Homo sapiens: one gene and its partners. The protein of the gene in region 2 purifies or fractionates together with the protein of the main gene of each other region. This does not show direct contact. Each region holds a gene or a part of one and is shown on either strand. Other genes may lie near its edges. The genes, in order: AGAP1, MED13L, ACAD11, DLD, PPFIA2, ZMYM3 and DLAT.

The links.
Region 1: the proteins of MED13L (region 2) and AGAP1 purify together in Homo sapiens (affinity purification with mass spectrometry; one large-scale study listed by BioGRID and IntAct). This does not show direct contact.
Region 3: the proteins of MED13L (region 2) and ACAD11 purify together in Homo sapiens (affinity purification with mass spectrometry, with the first as the bait; 2 studies listed by BioGRID). This does not show direct contact.
Region 4: the proteins of MED13L (region 2) and DLD purify together in Homo sapiens (affinity purification with mass spectrometry; one large-scale study listed by BioGRID and IntAct). This does not show direct contact.
Region 5: the proteins of MED13L (region 2) and PPFIA2 purify together in Homo sapiens (affinity purification with mass spectrometry; one large-scale study listed by BioGRID and IntAct). This does not show direct contact.
Region 6: the proteins of MED13L (region 2) and ZMYM3 purify together in Homo sapiens (affinity purification with mass spectrometry; one large-scale study listed by BioGRID and IntAct). This does not show direct contact.
Region 7: the proteins of MED13L (region 2) and DLAT purify together in Homo sapiens (affinity purification with mass spectrometry; one large-scale study listed by BioGRID and IntAct). This does not show direct contact.

The regions. Positions count from the first base shown.
Region 1 is NC_000002.12:236,129,668-236,132,293, forward strand, and holds the end of AGAP1 (arf-GAP with GTPase, ANK repeat and PH domain-containing protein 1), read left to right. Parts: 3' UTR 1-2,126; downstream 2,127-2,626. UniProt on the Homo sapiens protein: GTPase-activating protein for ARF1 and, to a lesser extent, ARF5. Directly and specifically regulates the adapter protein 3 (AP-3)-dependent trafficking of proteins in the endosomal-lysosomal system.
Region 2 is NC_000012.12:115,984,194-115,987,693, reverse strand, and holds part of MED13L (mediator of RNA polymerase II transcription subunit 13-like), read left to right. Parts: intron 1-405; coding exon 406-585; intron 586-1,204; coding exon 1,205-1,428; intron 1,429-3,321; coding exon 3,322-3,500. UniProt on the Homo sapiens protein: Component of the Mediator complex, a coactivator involved in the regulated transcription of nearly all RNA polymerase II-dependent genes.
Region 3 is NC_000003.12:132,635,810-132,639,309, reverse strand, and holds part of ACAD11 (acyl-CoA dehydrogenase family member 11), read left to right. Parts: intron 1-3,500. UniProt on the Homo sapiens protein: Acyl-CoA dehydrogenase, that exhibits maximal activity towards saturated C22-CoA.
Region 4 is NC_000007.14:107,904,683-107,908,182, forward strand, and holds part of DLD (dihydrolipoyl dehydrogenase, mitochondrial isoform 1 precursor), read left to right. Parts: intron 1-275; coding exon 276-376; intron 377-678; coding exon 679-822; intron 823-1,584; coding exon 1,585-1,686; intron 1,687-3,500. UniProt on the Homo sapiens protein: Lipoamide dehydrogenase is a component of the glycine cleavage system as well as an E3 component of three alpha-ketoacid dehydrogenase complexes (pyruvate-, alpha-ketoglutarate-, and branched-chain amino acid-dehydrogenase complex).
Region 5 is NC_000012.12:81,339,851-81,343,350, reverse strand, and holds part of PPFIA2 (liprin-alpha-2), read left to right. Parts: intron 1-2,142; coding exon 2,143-2,273; intron 2,274-3,500. UniProt on the Homo sapiens protein: Alters PTPRF cellular localization and induces PTPRF clustering. May regulate the disassembly of focal adhesions.
Region 6 is NC_000023.11:71,241,633-71,244,140, reverse strand, and holds part of ZMYM3 (zinc finger MYM-type protein 3), read left to right. Parts: intron 1-160; coding exon 161-312; intron 313-1,056; coding exon 1,057-1,171; intron 1,172-1,716; coding exon 1,717-1,971; intron 1,972-2,508. UniProt on the Homo sapiens protein: Plays a role in the regulation of cell morphology and cytoskeletal organization.
Region 7 is NC_000011.10:112,059,908-112,063,407, forward strand, and holds part of DLAT (dihydrolipoyllysine-residue acetyltransferase component of pyruvate dehydrogenase complex, mitochondrial isoform 2 precursor), read left to right. Parts: coding exon 1-158; intron 159-812; exon of another isoform or gene 813-830; coding exon of another isoform or gene 831-887; intron 888-1,130; coding exon 1,131-1,267; intron 1,268-2,498; coding exon 2,499-2,628; 3' UTR 2,629-3,500.

The DNA of each region.
Region 1 (2,626 bases), on a different chromosome or scaffold from region 2:
AAGAAATACTGCCCTTAAATAGACTGTTGAAATATTAATGGCCCCCCCATTTAATCAGTGTGTCTGCGGCTTTCTTCGCGTCACATGTCCGCATTGGCAGGTGATTCTGGAAAGGGATTCTGGGAAACCAACAAGTCTTTTTTAAATCTTTGAGTTGTATGAGAAAGTATTTAAGTTCACCAGTGTAGTAAACACCCACCCCAGAGCAGCGGTAAGCAAACCTAAATCTGAAAACCCATTCTTACTGTCTTTCACCATGAGATGCTGGTTTTGGTGTAAAATGACAGCACTTGGTTTGGGGTTTTGCACCTGTTGGGTAGAACTGTTCTTGTCTGAGGTCCTCACCCTCTACAGATGGGCCTCAGGGCCTGGAGGTGGGCAGATGGGGCCAGAGTGGCCAGCAGAGACTTGCATGGGCTCTGAAAGCCCCAGAGCTCAGGCCTAAGGCTGCTAGGTGAGACCAGCAGGCAGCTGTGGCATCCGACCTTGGGACGCCCAAGCTGGGCAGCCGCTCCATGTGCCCCAAACAGGATATCCTCATGAATGTGAGGAGAGGCTGGCTCAGGGCTTGGTTTTCATTTTGGCCTGGCACAGGGTACCTGTAGGGAGCACTCCCCCAACCTGAGGATGGTGAAACCATATGATAGAGACTCCTTGTCGAAGTCCACATCGGACTGATCTAGAATGCCCCGTGGGGGGATTGCATGGCCTTTGCCTTGAGATGCAGGTGAAAGAAAGGAACCAAACAAGGCATGAGTGTGTTGGGGAATCTTCCCAGTGGAGCAAACCCCCTTAACACACCAGCTGTTGGGAACAGCTGCCCCTAAATCCAATTAAACCCTCATCTCCCTGGTGCTGAACAGTCTACACTGGCCCAGGAAGCTAACGTCTGAGCCGCTTGGAGAGCTTTGGTAAACAGAAGACACTGGAAGCCCACTCGGTCAGCAGCTGGGCATGAGGATGTCAGGGGCCTTTGGACTTGAGGAAGGACAGTCCAGGTGCATGGAATCCTAATGGGCCTCATGCAGACACTGGAAGCAGCCCAGCCCCCTGCCCAATACCACAGCCCTGGGGTGTCCCCTGACATTCCTGGAGGTCCCTGGGCAAATGCATTTCCTGCCTGGGTTCTCAGGGTAGGAGAACAGAGAAGGCTCCAAGGGTGTTGGGAGTGAGCCAGGGGCTGGTCTGGGGAGTGGGTCTCACGCACTGCTCAGGTTGGCACGAGGGACCTCCCCCATCCCAACCCAGCCCCAAGGGTCCCAGCAGGGCTCTCAGCATGGCTGTTTTGAGGGTACACAGGTGGCTGGAGAGGGGTGGGGCAGTTGCATGGTGGGTGGCAAAGTGTGCATTTAGAAGCTGCTTCGTGGCGTTAAGAACGGGGGGAGAGGGACCAGCACTGTAACGTTAGAAATAATTCCTTCTTGCAGACTTGAAAAGCATCAGTTTCCCTCCCACGGCTGGGTTTTTGTGTCTGAAATACATCTAATTCTCCAGACTGCAGCCCCTCTCAGCCCCGAGCACCTGAGCGCTGGGGAGGCCCTTATTGAGCTCAGCCTGGAGAGGGGAGGGTCGCACGGGTCCCGGGGGCAGGTCTCCTGCACTGGCTCTTCCCTTCTGCCAGCTTGGAATTTGGTTCTCATCTTGCCACAGGGGTGCGTTTCCTAAAGGGCAGCCGGAGCAGCTCAAAGGTGACAACTGAGATGCATTTCTAGGCAGGGGCAGGGAAGGCCAACCCACCTTGCAGCCAGTTTTCTGTTTCTGTAAATAGCAGTGTATAGAGATGGAAGGGCAGCGTGGGTGTATCCACAGATGGGTTTAGGTTTTTTTTTTGGATGTTTTCTATTACCTCATTCAGCAACTTTATGTTTCACAATGACTCAATGATGCTTTATTTATATTGTTTGTACTGTAATTAAAACCATTGACAGACATTTCACTTTGCTTGTTATTTCATATGATCTTGTTTTGATTAAATATGCCAGTTTGTATTTTCCTGCCTTGGGATTTTTTTGTGTCCGCTGTACAGTATTCTAAGGGAAAAAGAAAAAGAAAGATGTGTAAAGTAACAGAGAGAGGTGGCTATGGTGTAGAGACCTCTTTCTAATAAAGAAATGAAAATATGTCTACACCGCTTCCGTGGAGTTGTTGTTTTTTGTTTTTTGTTTTTTTTTTTTTTGGTGGCGTTGGTCATTTGTCACAACTAATTGTGTTTCTAAGCCCAGGAAAGGTAAATCAGAGAGAAAAGGGGCTCTGTCTGCTGCGGGCAGGGATTGCCCCAGGCCCAGGCTGCCCCAGGCCCGAGGGACTCAGCACACGAGTTCACAGACGGAATGAAGAAAGAGACCAGGAGTGTCTCTTCTGACTTCTTCCTTTACAAGGACAGAAACTCCAAGAGAATGTTCTTTGCCCAGCCAGGGTTGACTGGGCCCAGAACTTCCAGATGCTTCTGTATCTTTGCACTGTGCCACACTGCCCCAGGTGTGTCGTAAGAACTATTCCCAGCAGGTGGCTAGCAGTAGAACCATCCCAGGACTCTATTATTAAGACCGTTATTATCATTAATATTACTGTAATTTTTGCCTACAAACTACATTATATCTTCCCCTCCAAAAAAAAAAAATGAGAA
Region 2 (3,500 bases):
CATTTTTTCCTACTTATCATATAAACAAAACATTGATATTTGCAAATAAAAGTAATAATTAAGAAACTTTTGCAGCTGTCTTATGAAAATCCTTGGAAACAGATTTCCATGGTTTTAAAAAGTCGCACCTATCCATTTTTCCACTTTTAAACAATTCTTCCATTAAACTTTTTTATATAGAGTAATCCATTTCCCCTTTTATTATTGTTGATACTAAATTATCAATTATTTTCTCTAATTTAGTAGAAGAATATCTTTCCTCCTGACTCCTAAGTCAAATATTTTAGAATCTACTACAGCTAATAACGTCATTGTTCTGAATATAACTGAGGCTCGAGGTGATGGTGAGGAAGAGGAGGGTGCTAGCCCCCTTATCTTCTCTGTTTCTTCTCACTTCTCTTCCAGTGCTGGACATCAGCATGCTCTCCTCCCAGGATGTGGTTCGTATGCTGTTGTCCCTGCAGCCCTTTCTCCAAGATGCCATCCAAAAGAAGCGCACGGGCAGGACCTGGGAGAACATCCAGCATGTGCAGGGACCACTCACTTGGCAGCAGTTCCATAAAATGGCAGGACGGGGAACCTACGGTAGGGTCTTTGTCCTGTTTAAAATTCCTTCTGACTTCAGTGCTGTTCAGTGAAGAGCAGCGTTAGTTACTGTCAAGTCCTTGCGTCACTAACAAAATAGGGGAGTCTTTTTCTTTGACCATTTAGTTTTATAATCTCTTTGTTTTCCTAAAGTTACTTTTGGAGTCAAGTTTCCTACCACCCTTGGCATAATCCAGGTCAGTGAGGAAGCTAATCCCTAAAAAGTGCATTTTTTAGATTCTCCTCATTTTCCCAATCCTCACTGCATTTTCATCTGGATGGACTTCTGGGCCAGTTCTGTCTACTTCATCATAGTCAGAATCATAATGCTTATCTTGAAGGAAATGATGTAGTGCTGCTTGGAAAGTTAATTTTAACTTGTTCTAGTCTGCCCTCTGATCTTACTGAACCTTTATAAACAAATTCTGACTTACTTAATTAAGAGTCCTCATCAGTGACCATTTAATTAGATGATTTCAAAAATACTTTTAAGAATGTCTTGTGAACATGGAGTGACATTTCAGATGCCAGAATTAAGACCAGTGCACCAGGAATTTCAAAATTGTAAGGTTGTGGGAAAAACTCTCTAGCACCTTTCTACACTACAATGTCATTTTAGGTTCGGAAGAATCTCCTGAGCCGTTGCCCATCCCCACTCTGCTGGTAGGCTATGACAAGGATTTCCTCACCATCTCGCCATTCTCCTTGCCGTTTTGGGAGAGGCTCTTGTTGGACCCATATGGGGGCCACCGTGATGTTGCCTATATTGTGGTGTGTCCAGAAAATGAGGCCTTGCTCGAAGGAGCCAAAACTTTCTTCAGGGACTTGAGTGCTGTATACGAGGTGAGGAAGTTACTGTGAAAATTGCTTTTTATGACTTGGATCCTCTGATTGTTTATAGTGATGACTAAATTTCAAGACAAATGTCTTGAAAGTAAATCTCAGAGAAAATTTGCAAACAGGTGGATGAAGAAGAGAATTGAATTGGCCAATTTTTCTGGAAGCAAATTGCTTTCCCATCTTTGCTTTATATTTGTTAGATTTAGAAAACGTTCCCCTCCCATTCTTACCACACGTCTTAAAATCCCATCAGTTCTCTCTTCTCCATTTATGTGCTAAAAGTTGAAGAATATTGCTCACCAGGGGAAAGTGTGGCTATGTAGAAGATGAGCTTTACCAAAAGAGCACATCTACTCTTTGTATTTATTTACTGGATGGATTGAGGGACAGGGTGAGTAGGTGAGAGTTCCTGACAACAGTGTAAAAATGTGTCTTTTGCAAATTTCTGAATTGAAACATAAGTTTAATGAATAATGTCCCTGTTGTGTTTTAACATGACATCTTAATACTGAAACTTTGATACTGATTAAAAATATAATTCCTATAATAATGTAAAAACCAGGCAGATAATTTTACATCTTTAGTATATGAATTCCTGTTGCTTTAAAAAAAATAGAATCATGTCTGTCTTTGAAGAATAAGTGCCACATTTCTTATGCCAAAGTATATATGCACTAAGTTCTTTGTATCTGATACATCTAATGTCTTTGTATTCAGCAAAATGAAATTAATATCTGTAAAATATTTAGTACTATGATAGGCATGTAAACATTATGAAAGTGGTTTTTAAATAAGATTCCAAGCTGAATTGCAAAATATTCCAAAACAGGACATTCATGATCTATAAATGTATGAGTAGGCACGGAATAGTAAATTTACGTTGTTGCTACAAAGAAATGAGGAGATGCTAACATGATGTAATGACATCAATTAAGTCACTGCCTTGGATACATTCATTTCTGAACAGTGTCTGGTCAGGGCATATATAATACTATTAAATCATAATTAACAGAAAATTTGTGTAAGCAGTTTTAAAGCCCAGCCATTTCCTTGAATGGAACCTTCAACATAAGTTACAAAATGTAAAAAGCACTGCCAGATCTTTTTAAGAGGGTACAGACAGACACTCTTTTAAATTTTTCTTAATGACTTCACTAGGGTTGCTTATTCGGCAGTAATTGATACCTCCTTAGGAAGAGTATACACTAGAGGATTTTGTCGGGGCTTAGTAAGCCTTCACTTCATCTACTCTAGTAAGGGATAATAATACGGGCTCTCCTGCTGGTGAACAGGTAGTTTACTTTTTGCAGGTTTATTATATTCCCTGCCATAAGCACCCATTTAGCGTCATGGAGATTAATAGCAGAATCTCCTTGTCCTATTTACTTTAAAAAAAAAAAAGGCGATCAGCATACTCACTGCTTCAGTGGCCCCTGCTATTGGTGATCTCCAAATGTCTGTAACAGAACAGATGGCCCATAAAATTTTAATGTTATCTTATGGGAAAATATTATGAGTAGGGATTACTTAGGAGATTTTAGTGGGCATATGTCTCAGTTAGCAACAGTAGGCAGGAATCTGCTAATTCTTTGTCCGTTAGCAATCAGGTAGTGTTCAGCAGCCTCCTCTTGTACAGGAGGAATTGGCTTGAGTGAAGAAACATTTTTTTTTTTAGAGAGCCTAGTCCAAGTTTTAGAGAGACAGATAGCAATTTAAGGGTACATTACAATTACCTGAAAGGACCAACTTGTAATGTTGGTTTGATTGCATGTGATAACCCTAAAAGAAAAAGGAAAATGCTTCCATATGTATGTTAAAGAATCTCCCTTGCTAACCATTGGTACTGAATGAAGGAATGGCTCCTGTTATAACTAATGATCTTGTCTATGATATCAGATGTGTAGGCTTGGGCAGCACAAGCCCATCTGCAAAGTGCTACGTGACGGGATCATGCGCGTGGGAAAAACTGTGGCACAGAAGCTGACAGATGAGCTTGTGAGTGAGTGGTTTAACCAGCCTTGGAGCGGCGAGGAGAATGACAATCATTCCAGACTCAAACTTTATGCGCAAGTTTG
Region 3 (3,500 bases), on a different chromosome or scaffold from region 2:
CTGCCTACCTTTGAGACTGGTTCTAATCCCAAGTGGTATCTGGTTTACTGCTTAAAAGGATTTGGGAATTTTACATGCATGATGCTGTTTTCTTCAAATAAGTTTTCATCTACTAGTTACAATATTTAGCTTATCCATGTTCTTGCTGTTTTTTCTGGTTCATTTATACTTCTTTGGGGTTTTTAGCCCTATCTCATGAAGAATTTATTATTTGTTTATTATAAACTCTGAGAATAGAGAATTCCAAAAGCTTCTTGAGGCTTCAAAAGAATTACATGAGATTAATATAACCTTGCTCAATGTAAATGTGCATACTGTATTCTTTATAAAGAGTATAAACAAATGAAAGCTGTAATCCTCCACTGAGCACCTACAATGAGGCCTAGGATTACAGTATAGTAGGAATGAATCCTGCTTCTGAGAGGAGGATTTTCTGGGTTCATTAGTTTCTTAGAATGCTAAGATGTTTTAGGGCAGGAAGAGCTAGTGGCACTGATGAATTCTGAATTCTAACCTTGTTAATTATCTACCCTGAGATTAGAAAAATTAAATATGCTAATTTATAATCTAGATAATTATAAAAGCATATGCCTGAAAACATAGCAGGATCTGGCCTGTATTTGATCTGTGTCATTTAATTAATATTTTAGTCGAGTCTACATAATATTGAGTCTCTATAGTAGATAACAAATTAGAACCCACTAGACTTGGAGTTCCTTTAAAACAATGACTGTATCTTATTCATCTTTATATTGCAGGTGCTTATATGATTCTGATGAATCTATGTTGAAGGGATTAATTTTAGTTAATTATTCACTAGCAACTATTTCCATCTCATAAATTTATGCTTAACTTTCATTCCCTAGCAGTGTGAACTTAAAGCATGTTATTCAATCTCTCTCTGTGCCTCTATTTTTATTTTAACTTTTTGTTTTGAAATAATTAGAGTCCCCAAAAAAGTTGTAACAGTGTTATAGTACAGAGAAGTCCTGTGTATCCATCATCCAAATTCTGCAAAATGGATATTATACAACTATGGTACATTATCAAAGCCAGGAAATTGACATTGTGTACCTTTTAAAATTGAAAAAAAAAATTCTGAGTTGCTGGGCAGCTAAAATGAAACAGTCAATGTGGAGCAACTAGCTGGTACCTGGCACATCAATGATGCTCAGTTTATTTCAGGTACCCTCATTTTTCCATTTTTTCCCCTTCATTTTTCTCTCTGACTTTTCTTAGACTACTTGTCAAGCTTCTTCAGAAAAATATTAGGGTATAAGTAAATGCTTCATAATATGTACGAAAACCTAAACAGTGGTTGTAGGGGATAGAATTATAGGAGACATAATTGTACATTTCTGTAATGTTTAGGGTTTGATGTTTTTTGGTTTTTATTTTTAAAACAACAGCATGTTTAATTTTTGTCATCAGAAAACACAACAATTAAGAAAGAAGAATAAACAATTTTAAATGACAAACCTTCCAGGAATGTGTGGAGTAAGCCAGTAAAGGAAACTACAGGATATGGCAAAACGAAATTATTTTCTGTTACTTATTTACAAAGTATTTAAAGCATGTTTGGGCAAGTATTTCAGTAGCACAATAGGCTCACTGCAATGTTGAAAAGAAATCCAGTTTTCCTGGAAAATGTTGATTTTCCAAATATAAATTTTACCAGTAGAGAAATGTTTAAGATCTTGGAGTTTAATGTAAAATCTGCATATTGTCATTTCAACTTGAAAAATATATTTAATTAGAAACATCCATTGGAACTTGTCAACTTCAGTGATCTAGAAATTGAAACCCCTTATTTTTGACCTCACCCTCTTTACCTTCTGTTCTTTTATTTCTCTGCATCTTCCCTGAGACACTGCAAATTTGATTGCTGTTAATTTAGAATCCATAAGCCCTTCATGACTTCACTTGACTTCTTATCCTACATAAGCCACATGGTCATAATCAGTCATCTCAAAAACTACCTTTAGTATCAATTTCATTAATAATTTTTTGACTATAGATGTATGCAAGTAATGTAAGAATTATAAAGTGTCCTGACCTTAGGTTACTTATTATTCTAGAATCTTCCCACCCTGACTTTATATCATCATTATTATTATTATTTTACTTTTTATTTTTTCTAATAACCCTACAGGGGATGTCCATCACCCCTTGACTTTAACCAGTTTCTAGCCCTAAACTTGAATCCTCATATTTTTGCTGCAGAATAAAGTCGTGAAGTAAGGTTAATTGGATCTGGGACATTTTTATGCCACATGATTTTATCTAGGCTGTAACTTCATCTCTTAGTAAAACCTGTGACATTTAAAAAATGGCTTTTCTAAATCTTTTCCCTTCTTCTCAAACTCTCACATTTCTTGTCCCATCTCGGTTCCCACTCTCAGCATGTGGTCTTGTCTTCTACCTAACTCATCTTTGTCCTTTCAGTCATTTTCCAGCATAGCCTGCTTTCTAGGAATTACACCATGCCCCTCAAAGTTCTCTTTATATTGTTGAAGACATTTTCGTCCGCTACACAATATCACCTGTATGCAGATTGATGGGTGATATTTTTCTTTAGCCTCATTGCCAAGAAAATTTGTCCCTCTTGAGCAGCTGGTTTGTTTTTGACCTGCATACACTATAAAGATTGTGACTGACCATGCTTCACACTTTATTTTACCCGCTATAAAATTCAAAGCAAATTTTACTACCCACACTAACAACTATGCATGTCCTATCACATTCAATTATGTGTAATAACCTTACTCCTAGCTTCATCTTTTCATTACAAATTCTATTATTTTCTTCCCTGCCTTCTTCATCTACTGTTTGTTCTGTTGGATTGTATGTATTTTTTGTTTGTTTCGAATGCCAATACACATACATATTAATAAAATTCAATGGTGTAAAAAGTATACATAAAATGAATCTCTTTATAAAGAAGATAATTTAAAAAACTAAAAGCTTTCTGTTGAGCTGAGGTTTCAGAAAAACTATCAAAAATAATTTTACTAATAAGTTCCCTAGCAGCAGTAAGACGAACTAGTAAATGTCCAGATCAACCACTAAAAGTTATGTTGAGCTTTTAATAACTCTCAACACAAACAGGCATCAACAGGACTCTAATTAGCTATTGCTAATTAATTTGCACTAATTTATGCAATTTGATGAGCCATCAGCTTTTCTCACTGGCTGTTGTTTTATAGCTTTGTGTTTTTACCCCAAAAATGGTTCAGATATTCTGAAAAGTAACTCCAGAGAAGTTTCCCAATTGTATTAAAAAAGAAAAGTAATCATTTATAGCATAAGTAAGTGCCTCATCTTTACTTTGGATGTTAAAAGCATAGATAACAAATAGAATGATGTAAGAGAAAAATGCATCCATCCTCTTCAGTAGTTTCACAAATCTAGCTAGTATAGTAATTTATAATACTTATAATATTATAAATTTATAGTATAATATAACCACAATAAAAGCTCTTATAAAGTCATAGAGAAAG
Region 4 (3,500 bases), on a different chromosome or scaffold from region 2:
GTTCAGAGGATATGTTATCACAGTGGGATATAATGTTTTATTTTGGACTGCCTTTTTACCCAAGGTAGACATTTTATAGTGTTTGATAGGTTCTGTTTCTGTGATACAATGATGTTGGCCTTTTGTCAACTATAATTATAAGTTATTACATTTTGAAACTTTAATACTGCCTTTTATAAGCATTAGGTTGAAATTTTCCAGTTGGTGAGTGAAAAACACTGCATATTGCTTCAAGAATTTAGCTAAGAACTAAAGATTAATTGAACAAATTACAGTGTCCGAAGTTCGCTTGAATTTAGACAAGATGATGGAGCAGAAGAGTACTGCAGTAAAAGCTTTAACAGGTGGAATTGCCCACTTATTCAAACAGAATAAGGTCAGTGTTTAATATTCAGATTTCTGCTTTACTTTGAATACAAATTAAACTTTGCATTATAGAGTGATGATATTTGAACTTGGTTACAGGGGAATATTTATTTAATTTAAAATAGCTTGCTAACCTGAAATAGATTTCCCTGACATATATCACAGATTTTTTTGCTGCACCATGGTGTAGCATTACTAAGTAAGGAAGCATTTTGTTTTAGATAAATTATTTACAGAGTAATTTTTCCTTTGAATGATTTATCAAACAAATTACTTTAAACTTTGTGAATTTATAAAGATTATTTTGTAAAGGTTGTTCATGTCAATGGATATGGAAAGATAACTGGCAAAAATCAAGTCACTGCTACGAAAGCTGATGGCGGCACTCAGGTTATTGATACAAAGAACATTCTTATAGCCACGGGTTCAGAAGTTACTCCTTTTCCTGGAATCACGGTATTTATGCTTCATAATTTACAACCATTACAACTTTTCTTTAGAAATACGTTTTATAAGTTATTTATGCTATTTGTGAACTTTGAGAGATTTCTGACTGAAATACTATATTTTGATGGTCATTCAGCTTTGGGAAGTTACCTGTCTTTATTCTGCAGTGATTCTGACCAGCTATAGAACACTTTATATTAAGATATGTTTGAATACAGTATGAAGTTAAAATTGACCATTGCGTTTGGAATATTGGTGGATAAAATTTAAAGTCAGTGTTTTTAATGGGATTTGATGAAATTAGGTATATAGATACCTCAAAACAAATAAATGACTTAGTATTTTTAGTGATTCTACTGAGATCACAGTTTATAAATACATTTATCTCTTCATATCCTTGGAGGATTGGTTCCAGGACCCCCCTTGGATACCAAAACCCACAGATGCTCAAGTGCCTTACATAAAATGACATAGTATTTGCATATAATCTGCATACTTCCTCCTGTATACTTTAAGTCATCTCTGGATTACTTATAATACCTAATACACTGTAAATGCTATGCAAGTAGTTCCTATGCTGTATTGTTTAGGGAATAATGACAAAAAAACCATGTGTACATGTTCAGTACAGATGCAACCATCAATTTTTTTCCTGAATATTTTCAATTAATGGTTGGTTAAATCTGCAAATTTGGAACCCATGGATATGGAGGGTCGACTGTACTAGGTTTTTTCAAATTATTTTGATTATATCTTTTGTTTTTCTTACAGATAGATGAAGATACAATAGTGTCATCTACAGGTGCTTTATCTTTAAAAAAAGTTCCAGAAAAGATGGTTGTTATTGGTGCAGGAGTAATAGGTGTAGAATTGGTAAGTGTTGTCTTTCTGCCTCTTATTACCTCCTTGGAGTTGGAAGGGACTTAAAGGTCCCCTTTTTGATTTTTTGTATAACATTACAGGCTGATCAGCATTGAGTTTTGCTTAAACACTTCTAGTAATAAAGAGTTTACTTTTGTTTTTTTCAAGACAACCTATTTATGTATTTACTCATTTAGAATGTTCTCCTTTATTTTAGTCTGTTTCCTTGTACCTTCCACCCTTCCATTTCCTAGAACTGGTCGAATTCTTTTTTAATATGACAGCCATTCAGATATTTGAGGACAGCTTTTATCCTGGGCAAATTGCATTCCAAATAAAGATTATTCTCTTTACCATCACATACATGATTTGGCTCTTCCCTTCTCTATCCTCATCTTGATGCCTCTTAACTTAGGTTTTAGAAATGTCAAACTACTTGCATTTCTTTGAACACCATGTTATTTTAGACCTTCTGTCTGCCTTGTTCTCCCTTCTTGTCCATCTGGCAGCTTTCCACACATTTCCAATGACCTCCCTCCATTTTAGAGTCACTGTGCCTTGTAAACACCAGGAATTGCTCTACTTCTGAAATAATAAATTCAGATATTTTATTATGTAACCATGACCTCCTTTCCTCTTTTACTCAGTTATTCATAGTGTACTTTGTACCCTTTTTTAGGTTTTCTAGTCCATAGATCTACTTTTTTGCAATCTTCCCTTTCCAATCTTGACTGCGTTCCTGATCAGCTTAGATGCCATAGTCCATCACTTTAACCACACTCTTACAGATGTCCTTGAGTTGCTTGTCTCACTGTTCTGTCATATCTGCTTGGCAAAACTCTAGTTCGGTTTGAATGCAGCAGTCTGCCTTTTTTATGCTATTTCCAGGCTGTTGACTACACCTGGAGAAAAACACACCCTACTCATTGGTACTTGTATTAATTCTTGGCACAAACCTTAACAAGAACCTCAGCCTTGCTGACAGTTTATTATTTCCTAAGATGGTACACTGCCCTGGTCTCTGCAATGGCCATTTTCATTTTCTACTCTTCTCAAATCTCTGCTTGTATACTGTCTGCTCTGCCTGTGGATGACCTTGTCTTTTAAATATTACATAAAAGAGAAATCAGATGAGAACTCCCTCAAGTTGATGTCCTAAATTTGATAATGCTTTTACCTGTTGTTACACCTATCCTTTTGATTACCTCTCCTATTACTGTGGAAATGCCATTTTCCCTAAGACTAATCCCTTTACTTGTGCTTGGTAGCACATCATCTGCCTTTTCAGAGACTTGGTTTTGTGATTTTTATTCTTGTATTTTTCAGTCTTCAAACTCCTTCCTTTTATTTACAATTTCATGTGCTTCTATGTGTGTACCTGTGATGCATTTGCACTCATTAACACAGGTTTGTGTGCACATAAATGCTCCTTATCTTGGTCCCATGTCCTTCTTGAGTTACCAATTTTGTTCGCACTTTTCCTTCAAAACCCAGCTTCTCAAAAGAGTTGTCCATGCTTTATTTCATCAACTTCCACTCACTCAGTCTATGGCTTGTGCCAATAAATTGCTCTTAGGGCATGAATCTATTTATTGCTCAATCTGTTGGACTAATTTCTTCACTGCTTTATTTGGCAGTAATTAGCATTGCTGATTTTCTTGCCTTTGAAACACTTTGCCTAACTTCTGTGATTTCATATTCTTCCATTTTTACATCTGCTCTTTGGGCTGAATTCTCCATATTATGCAAGTTCCCCTTTCTTAGGCTTCCCTTTAATTGTTAGTATTTTTGTTTTTCTTTTTTTTTTTTTTTGAGTCCGAGTCTTG
Region 5 (3,500 bases), about 35 Mb from region 2:
TAAAAAGACTATATAAGTTTAATGGCTGTAAGAAATAGAAAGGTAGGATGGAAGGTTCTATACGAAAATGTAGTCTCAAATAATTCAGGAAGTAACAACATAATTTGTGAGAAAAGTCATGGAAAGAGGGACCACAACCAAAAAAATCTTGTGTATCGGGGAACGAGTTAAATAAATGATGGTATTTACACTTCAAAAGACTACATTAAGAAAAGTGTTGTATCACTTCCATTTTATTGATGAGGAAATGTAATATTAGAGCAGGTAAGTAATCAGCCTATTTATTCAACATTTAAGAAAAATCAGAATTCAAATCCCTCTCTAATTCCAAAACTCTAAGTGATATTCAGAGGAAAGTTTTGTACATGATTTATTATTATTATTATTATTATTATTATTATTATACTTTAAGTTTTAGGGTACATGTGCACAATGTGCCGGTTAGTTACATATGTATACATGTGCCATGCTGTTTTTAGAAGCTGTTATTGGGAATAAGTATAGTTTGGCTGGCAGGGAGGACAAAGAGGGTATTTTATAAGATGTTTCAGAAGCAAAATTCTGACAGCAAAAATGGCCATGCTTAGCAGAAACAATCAGAGAAGAGTCATGGTGGGATCACAGAACTGTGAAAACACTAACATGTATTAGGAATAGTTCAGAAACACGCTTAAGAGTTTAGCTGGGTTGTGGGTTTAAAAAGGTTTTCCACAGCATCAGAATCAATCCGAAAGCAGTTATTGAAAAAAGATTCTCCTGATGGCAATATGCTAGTTGAATAGAGCAAAGGAATTATATAAAAATGCCTACCTACCTAAGCTGTTAAAAGGAACCTAAGATTGGGTGACAAAAGTCCTGACAATTTCATGAAGTTCCTCAAAGTTACAAGGTCTTTATTATAGATAAACACATTTATAAATAACAGCTTTACATAAAAACAAACAAAATATTTCCCTAGAACTTTAAAAATTTTTGTTTAGCCATACTAAGAACTTTTTTCATCAGAACTCTAAAGCCATAAGTCTTTAGCTGTGTTTTCTACAATCCTGATCTCTCCATATTGTGATACACAACGATGCCATGAAAAATATGCAGCATTGTTGTAAAAACTATGTCTCTACAATTAACTTGACATTGGAAAAAATTTTAAGTTACAGCTCTATATCTTCATCTCTGACAAAATGGATAGTATCCTGAGTCATTCTGGATTCTGTACTAAAGTGTTCTTTAAGGAAATCCCTCCCATCTCATCTTCTTTTGGTTTTCTGTATGTCTTTGCCAGTTTTCCCATCATGGTAGTAAAATGGAACAATTTGAAAACATTACTATCTTACCTTTTATTATTCTCTTTAAAAAGAGATTTTTTTCTTACAAACCACAACTCATATTTTAAATACCCTGTAATAAATTTCATTAGGCTGACTGATTTAAAACACTTTATCTGATAAAGTTATATTTTATCAACTTCTCATTTCAAAAATCCCTACTTAAAAGATGTCTTTATTATGATAGCCTGAGTATGTATAATGCTATATGTTAGTGAATTGTTCAAATGTGTGTTTAATACCTTTTTGTAAAGAGTTTATATTCTGATGTTATAAAATATCATAGATCAATGTCAATAAACACTATAGATCAATAGTCAGCAACTAGTTGATTTATGGCAGCAGTGTCTAATCTTTTGGCTTCCCTGGGCTACATTAGAAGAAGAATTGTCTTGGGCCACACATAAACTACTCTAACACTAATGATAGCTAATGAACTTTAAAAAAAAGGTCCGTGCATAAATCGTTTTAAGACAGTTTACGAATTCGTGTTGGGCTGCATTCAAAGCCGTCTTGGGCTATATGTTTCCAGCAGGCTGTGGGTTGGAAAAGCTTGATCTATGGTGTTTATTAATCAAACATTTTTGTGTAGTGGGTCTATGATTTTTTTTTAATTTTAATGTGTCCAATTTAAATATTTGTGAAAATCAAACTCTTTAATGGGAATTTATGTATGTAAGACTTAAATGCCCCAAGTTTTGTTGTTTTATTTTGTATTAAAATTACTCGACAGCCTTGTTCTCATGATTCTCCATTTGTGTCAATTTCAACTGAAATTTAGAAAGGGTTTATTTGAATGTATTGTTTTTGCTTCTAGATTGCAGTTGTGGAAGAAGATGGTCGAGAGGACAAAGCAACAATTAAATGTGAAACTTCTCCTCCTCCTACCCCTAGAGCCCTCAGAATGACTCACACTCTCCCTTCTTCCTACCACAATGATGCTCGAAGGTAAGACTCTGCAGGCACACTGCACACTGAATGCCCTCCTTCCAAAAATATTCCTCTTCCTTCGTTGTTGTCGAATAGACTGCTTAACAATTTACATTATTTGAGCCAGAATTCTCCAGCTTCCCTTTCCCAGTATCACTTGTGAAATAACCAAATTTCAATTTTGATATCAAATTTGTATTTTTAAAGTTAACTGTATCTTTGTGGTCTTATTATTGGTCAATATAGATAAGAATAACTCTTCTATTTTTTAGTGGATATTTTCTATTACAATGAGATCAGGCTAGAGGAAGGACTTACTAGAAATATTAACAAAAAACTAAGGAGACTGTAGGACAAGATCATAAATTTGGATTGCAGTATAAGCGTAATTAAAGTCTGAAAAGTATATGATTGTGCCTTTTAGCAGACAGGTATGTGCATCCTGTGGGTACTGCTGCTGCCAGCAGTAATAACTCCTCAGTCAGAAAGTTATTAGAAAATAAAAAAATCCTTGGCTAAAATATTAAATAAAAAGATAAGTCTAGATGGAGAAATATGTCATTTGTCATCACAATTCTTTATACTGTCTTATCCATATGCATAAAGCACTGCAAACAGATCTCTATAATCACTGATGATATGAATATACCTAAGCATGTAGTTTATATCTGAAATATATCTTCTCTTATTGTCTCATCAATTGCAGCATCTGTAGACACATAATTAATATAACCAAATATAATGACTTAAGGATGAATGCTTCAATAAAAATATCTATCTTCTAGATATTATGTTTTACAATAAATGCTTTTAAAAGTAGGGCTTTCTGTGTTGGCAGTCATTTCTTTTTTCCAACTATTTTTTGTTGTTAATGTGGAAAAATCAGTTACTTCAGCTTCAAAATATTACTTCTTTCACTCTCCAAAAAAGAGTATATTTCAACATATAAAAAGCTATTGCTTGAAGGTTAGGGAATGTGAGTTCAAATTAATTCACATGAGTAAGTAAAAGTAAGTAATTTATCATGGTGTTATAAAATTAACAACTATAGAAACTAATAACAATGTCTATTGATCCCATCCTATTAATACGGTGTCAAATATATTGACCATAAATTGAAACTTAACCAACTGCTTGAAAAGCATTTCAGTTTAACATGTATTTAAAATAATATTTGAGTACTCTAATTAGGAAAACACATACATTGATCACGAGGATACATGGTTTGTTGCTTCCAAATTGCAC
Region 6 (2,508 bases), on a different chromosome or scaffold from region 2:
AAGGGAAATGCTGTCTAGGTTCCAGGTTAGGGGCTCTTTCTGTAATTGTTCAGGAGCTAGGCATGACTAAGGGATGGAGGGGTTAATGGTGATGGAGCTAAGTGAAATTCTCCATGTAGAGTTTTTCTTAATCCTGTCCCTGCACAACATATCACTGCAGCCAAACCCATGCGTATCAAAGAGGATATTCTCGCCTGCTCAGCTGCTGAGCTCAACTACGGTCTGGCCCAGTTTGTGAGAGAAATCACTCGGCCCAATGGTGAACGATATGAACCTGACAGTATCTACTATTTGTGTCTTGGCATCCAGCAGGTACCTCTTGTGCACCACCTCACTTCCTGTCACTCTTAACACAGCAGGCAGGGTCTAAACAGAAATGATTCTGGGTTAGGCACGGTGGCTCACGCCTGTAATCCCAACACTTTGGGAGGCTGAGGCAGGAGGATCGCTTCAAGCCAGGAGTTTGAGACCAGCCTGGGCAACAAAGTGATACCCATCTACCCAAAAAATATTTTTTTAATGAAAAAAAAAAGCAGTTATTCTGTTGCACTCCCTGTTCCTCATCTTGTCCCCTACCTGAAGCAGGCAGCTTGCCTTTAATCTCCTACTCCAAATAGAACATGAGATATCAATACTCTTCTAAAATCAAAACTGCATTCCAGGACCGTTGGCCAAGGAGCAGTCTTCATTGCTATCCAGGTCCCCTTTGTAATCTTTAAGCCCATTCTAGGAGGGGAGGGATGGGTGGAGCTGGGATCCTTGAGTGCTGGGGTAATGTTTAGTTCCCCCTGGGAGAAGTCAACCATGTATTACCTGAGAAGGAGGTGTGGGCTTCTAAAGAACATCTCCTCCAAGCCTCCTCCTCTTCGAGCAAAGCCTGAGTAGCGCAGAGCTGTGGGTATACCTGGGGGAAAGCACTCGAGGCCACCTAATCAAGCAACTGTTTCCCATCGTCTCCTAATGATCAAGGACACCATACCTGGGGGCTTCAGCATCATTATCTTTCTTCTAGGACCTACAGTCTAGCCTTAGGTGTGTCTGTTTTTCTTTCCCCAGTACTTGCTGGAAAATAACCGGATGGTGAACATTTTCACGGACCTTTACTACCTGACTTTTGTTCAAGAACTCAACAAGTCTCTGAGTACCTGGCAGCCCACACTCCTCCCCAACAGTAAGGAACAGGGACGTAGCAACCCCTACCCGCTTTCTCCATTCTTCCAATCCACCATCCCGAGAGTCCTGTGCTGTTTGGTCTGCCACTCTTCACAAAGGGCCCGAGGGCAGGAGCGTGTAGCTGGATGCCTCAGGGTTTAGAGTTAAAGGAGCACAGGAGCGCCTGTTCTTGAACGTGAGATGGGGATCAAGACTTAGGTCTGAAGAGCTATCTCTAGGACCAGAAAAAGATGGCCTGGGTTTGGGTGGTAAGTAAAGAAAGAAAGCAAGAAATCGTGGGACTCCTCAAGGTTTACATTTACTTGTCTACAACTTGAGGGTGGTGAGAGGCGTTCCAAATGCAGGTGTGGAAAGTATATATTTTTTAAAGCCCAGTCCCACTGTGTAGTGTAGCAAGTGTAGCGAAGTGACAGTGTTTTATATACAAAGGTTACTCACCAAATGAGAATTGTGTGGGAAATGAGCAGGGCACATGGGATGGGAAGTGGTTGGGTTTGGGTAGCCACTCCCTCCTGACTGGCCTCTCCCCCTTGACCATTGTAGATACGGTGTTCTCTCGAGTGGAGGAGGAGCACCTCTGGGAGTGTAAGCAACTGGGGGTCTACTCGCCCTTTGTCCTCCTCAACACCCTCATGTTCTTCAACACTAAGTTTTTTGGGCTGCAGACAGCTGAGGAACACATGCAACTCTCCTTCACCAATGTGGTGCGGCAGTCCCGCAAGTGTACCACCCCTCGGGGCACCACCAAGGTGGTGAGCATCCGCTACTATGCCCCAGTCCGCCAGAGGAAAGGGCGAGGTACGAGGCTGCCCCCTCCCCTGTGCTTTTGCCCCTTCTCTGCCTTCCCCTTCCATGCCCTGCCATAACCCACCATACCTGCCAGGTCGGCCCTCTCCTTGGCGCCTAGCTTCCCTCTCCTGTTCCTGTGTGCAGAAAGGGTAGAAACAGCCAGTCCTCCTACCTGATAGGCAGTAGCTGTTGCATAAATAAGAGGTCACCCTCTGGCCTGTTTCCCCTCTTTCCTCATTTAAGACAGTTTACTTGCTTGCCTGCTTTTTCTGGGTGGTGGACAGGTAGGAAACCATTGGGTGTGTTTGGCTGTCGGGGAGGGTAGAATGACAGGCTTTCTGTGATTCTTTGCTATCGGGTCTAACAACAACTGCACCTTGGTTTCCATTTTTTCTGTCCCTGGACTTCTGTCCTGTCTGAGTGAAGTTTCCAAGGTCCTTTCTCTGGACCCATGCTTCTACCTGGACTAATGCACAAGGGGTTGGGGTCATTGCTGTTTCTCTATCCCAGAAGGCAAGCCCACCCTTGCAGTAGGGTCTGTTTTAT
Region 7 (3,500 bases), on a different chromosome or scaffold from region 2:
ATGTTGTTGATGTCAGTGTTGCGGTCAGTACTCCTGCAGGACTCATCACACCTATTGTGTTTAATGCACATATAAAAGGAGTGGAAACCATTGCTAATGATGTTGTTTCTTTAGCAACCAAAGCAAGAGAGGGTAAACTACAGCCACATGAATTCCAGGTAGGGTATTAATTATTGCTTTCTAATTATGTTATTTTTAAGGTTTGCATAATGCATTTATTGCATTTTTCACCTTTTGATTCTGTCACGTAATTTTTTTTTTTTTTTTTTTTTTTGAGACGGAGTCTCTCTGTCACCCAGGCTGGAGTGCAGTGGCATGATCTCGGCTCACTGCAAGCTCCGCCTCCTGGGTTACGCCATTCTCCTGCCTCAGCCTCCCAAGTAGCTGGGACTACAGGCACCTGCCACCACGCCCGGCTAGTTTTTTGTATTTTTAGTAGAGACTGGTTTTCACCATGTTGGCCAGGATGGTCTTGATCTCCTGACCTTGTGATCCGCCTGCCTCAGCCTCCCAAAGTGCTGGGATTACAGGCATGAGCCACCACGCCCAGCGTAATTCTTTTTTGAAACAGAGTCTCACTCTTGTCACCCAGGTTGGAGTACAATGGTGCAATCTTGGCTCACTGCAACCTCCGCCTCCCAGGTTCAAGCAATTCTCCTACCTCTGCCTCCTGAGTAGCTGGTATTACAGGCATGCACCACTGCACCTGACTAATTTTGTGTGTGTGTGTATGTTTTTAGTAGTGTCGGGGTTTCACCATGTTGGCCAGGCTGGTTTCAAACTCCTGACCTCAAATGATCCACCCGCCTCACCCTCTCGAAGTGCTGGGATTACAGGTGTGAGCCACTGTGCCTGGCCTGCCACGTAACTCTTATTGACACACCGTTCTGAAAATAAAGTAAAATTCAATCATATATCCAAAAGAAGATATTGTTTGAAAATAAGACATTTTCCGGCTGACATTTTTGTTCATATTGTAATGGTTGTATATCTTCAGTAATGTGTATTCCATTCAGGCCTTTCTTAAGACCTTGCACCTTTTTAGCTTAAGGTCTTTTCACAGAACATTTGTCAAGTTTTCTGATTTATGTTGACAAACTATAATTTATTTTTAATTTTTTTTCCTCTAGGGTGGCACTTTTACGATCTCCAATTTAGGAATGTTTGGAATTAAGAATTTCTCTGCTATTATTAACCCACCTCAAGCATGTATTTTGGCAATTGGTGCTTCAGAGGATAAACTGGTCCCTGCAGATAATGAAAAAGGGTAAGTGCCAAAATGGAGGGGAAGTCGTAAGCTAATTTTTATTACACTGTACACTTGTCCTGTGGTATCCTCAGGGGATTGGCTCCAGGAACCCCCTCAAATATCGTGATCCACAATGCTCAAGTCCCTGATATGATATGATGTAATATTTGCATATAACCTACACACATTATTCTGTATACTTTATTCTTGACTTATAATAATACAATACCTAAACAGCACTTCATTCACATGGATCCAGTGTAGTGCCCGGTGTGCAGCAAATTCAAGTTGTGCTTACTGGAAATTTGTGGAATTGTTTACTTTCTGGATATTTTGATCCATGGTTGGTTGAATCTATGGATTCGGAACCCATGGATATATGGAGGGTCAACCATACCTGTTTTTGAGTATCAGTGTTTTTTTTGTTTGTTTGTTTGAGATGGAGTCTCACTCACCCTGTCACCCAGGCAGAAGTGCAGTGGTGCCATCTCGGCTCACTGCAATCCCCGCCTCCCAGGTTCAAATAATTCTCCTGCCTCAGCCTCCCAAGTAGCTATAGCTGGGATTACAGGCATGTACTACCACACTTGGCTAATTTTTGTATTTTTAGTAGACATGTTGTTTCACCATGTAGGCCAGGCTGGTCTTGATCCTGACCTCAAATGATCTGCTCACCTCAGCCTTCCAAAGTGCTGGGATTACAGGAATGAGCCAGTGTGCCTGGCCAGAGTCTCAGTTTTATATATAGTTATTGGCATGCTATATTGTATCTTCAAATAAAATTATATATATATAAAAAATACGAAATTCTTCAAGGCAGCAACTTTACTAAATGCAGTTAGTCCTATTTGAGGTGGAAAGCCTTATTTATTCTAGGTGAGGAGTCAGCATGCTTTTTTTTAGTTGTATAGTAAGTATTTTAGGCTTTCTGGGACATATGGCTGCTGTTGCAAATAATCTGCCATTGTAGTATGAAGGGAGGCATAAACAAGACAAATGAATTGCAGTAAATCTTTACCTAATAAAAACAGGCAGAGGACAGGATTTGGCCCATTGCCCACCCATACTCCAGGTATCTGGTCTGTTTCTTCAAGCTATAAATTTGAGCTAAAGGTATAGGAGACTGGAAGAGTAGATAGGAAGTATTACCTGGTTGGGATTATAGGGTAGGAGTGAGCATTTGGGTGGTTACTGGCTGAAATGCAGTATTTTCTTTCAGAATATCTAAAATGTCTTTATCTTTTTCTAGGTTTGATGTGGCTAGCATGATGTCTGTTACACTCAGTTGTGATCACCGGGTGGTGGATGGAGCAGTTGGAGCCCAGTGGCTTGCTGAGTTTAGAAAGTACCTTGAAAAACCTATCACTATGTTGTTGTAACTAACTCAAGAATTTCTAAACTCTCCCAGGTCACACTGATTCATTCTTAACAAGATATTTATATGTTATTAAACAGGTGGTTCTTTTTATTTTAACCAGTTATTTTTATTATTGAGTCTGTCCAGATAAGTTATTTATAATGGGCATTACTGAATTTTTAAAATGCCGATTACACCCAAATATTGTGCACATTTAATAATCAGACACCAGATTTTTAGCTCTGTACTCCTAATTAAGGGACATGTATGTGGCCTTGCCTAGCCCTTTGGTGATAAGTACTTCCTCTAGGAAATGTACGATAGGTAGAATTGTGGTTCCCTAAAGACAAGTACATAAAGGTGACCCTGATGAAACCTTGAAGTTCTGAAATTTAACTGCCTAAAATGTTCTCCTTAGATGTGAGAGAAAGAGAAATCAGAAAAATTAATTCTCTTGGGGGAAGGGCTTGAATTGAAGCTTTACTTTAGAATTTAGCCCTGGTTTGAAATTTTCCATTACATGATCTTGGTTTATCATCGATGGGAAGGGTAGAAAACTTCAAGGAAAATAAGTGAAATTTTAAAAGTCAGCATTTTCTTAGACCTCTTCAGCTGATTGTTTATTTTTCTATGAATTCCTACACATGGTTATTCCCCCCTACTTGAGATAATCTAAATATAAACCAGCTACTTGATGTAACTGAGAATTTGTGTGGATATTTATTTAAACAAATGTGTAATTTTGAGTACAGAATTCAACAGTTACCTCCAAAAAAGAAACATTGTTAATATAATTTAACAGAAGTTGTGAAACTAAAATTTTCTAAGATTAACTGGTAGTTCATTGTAAATGAACATAATGAACAGAATTTATGACTCCACTGTGGAAAATGC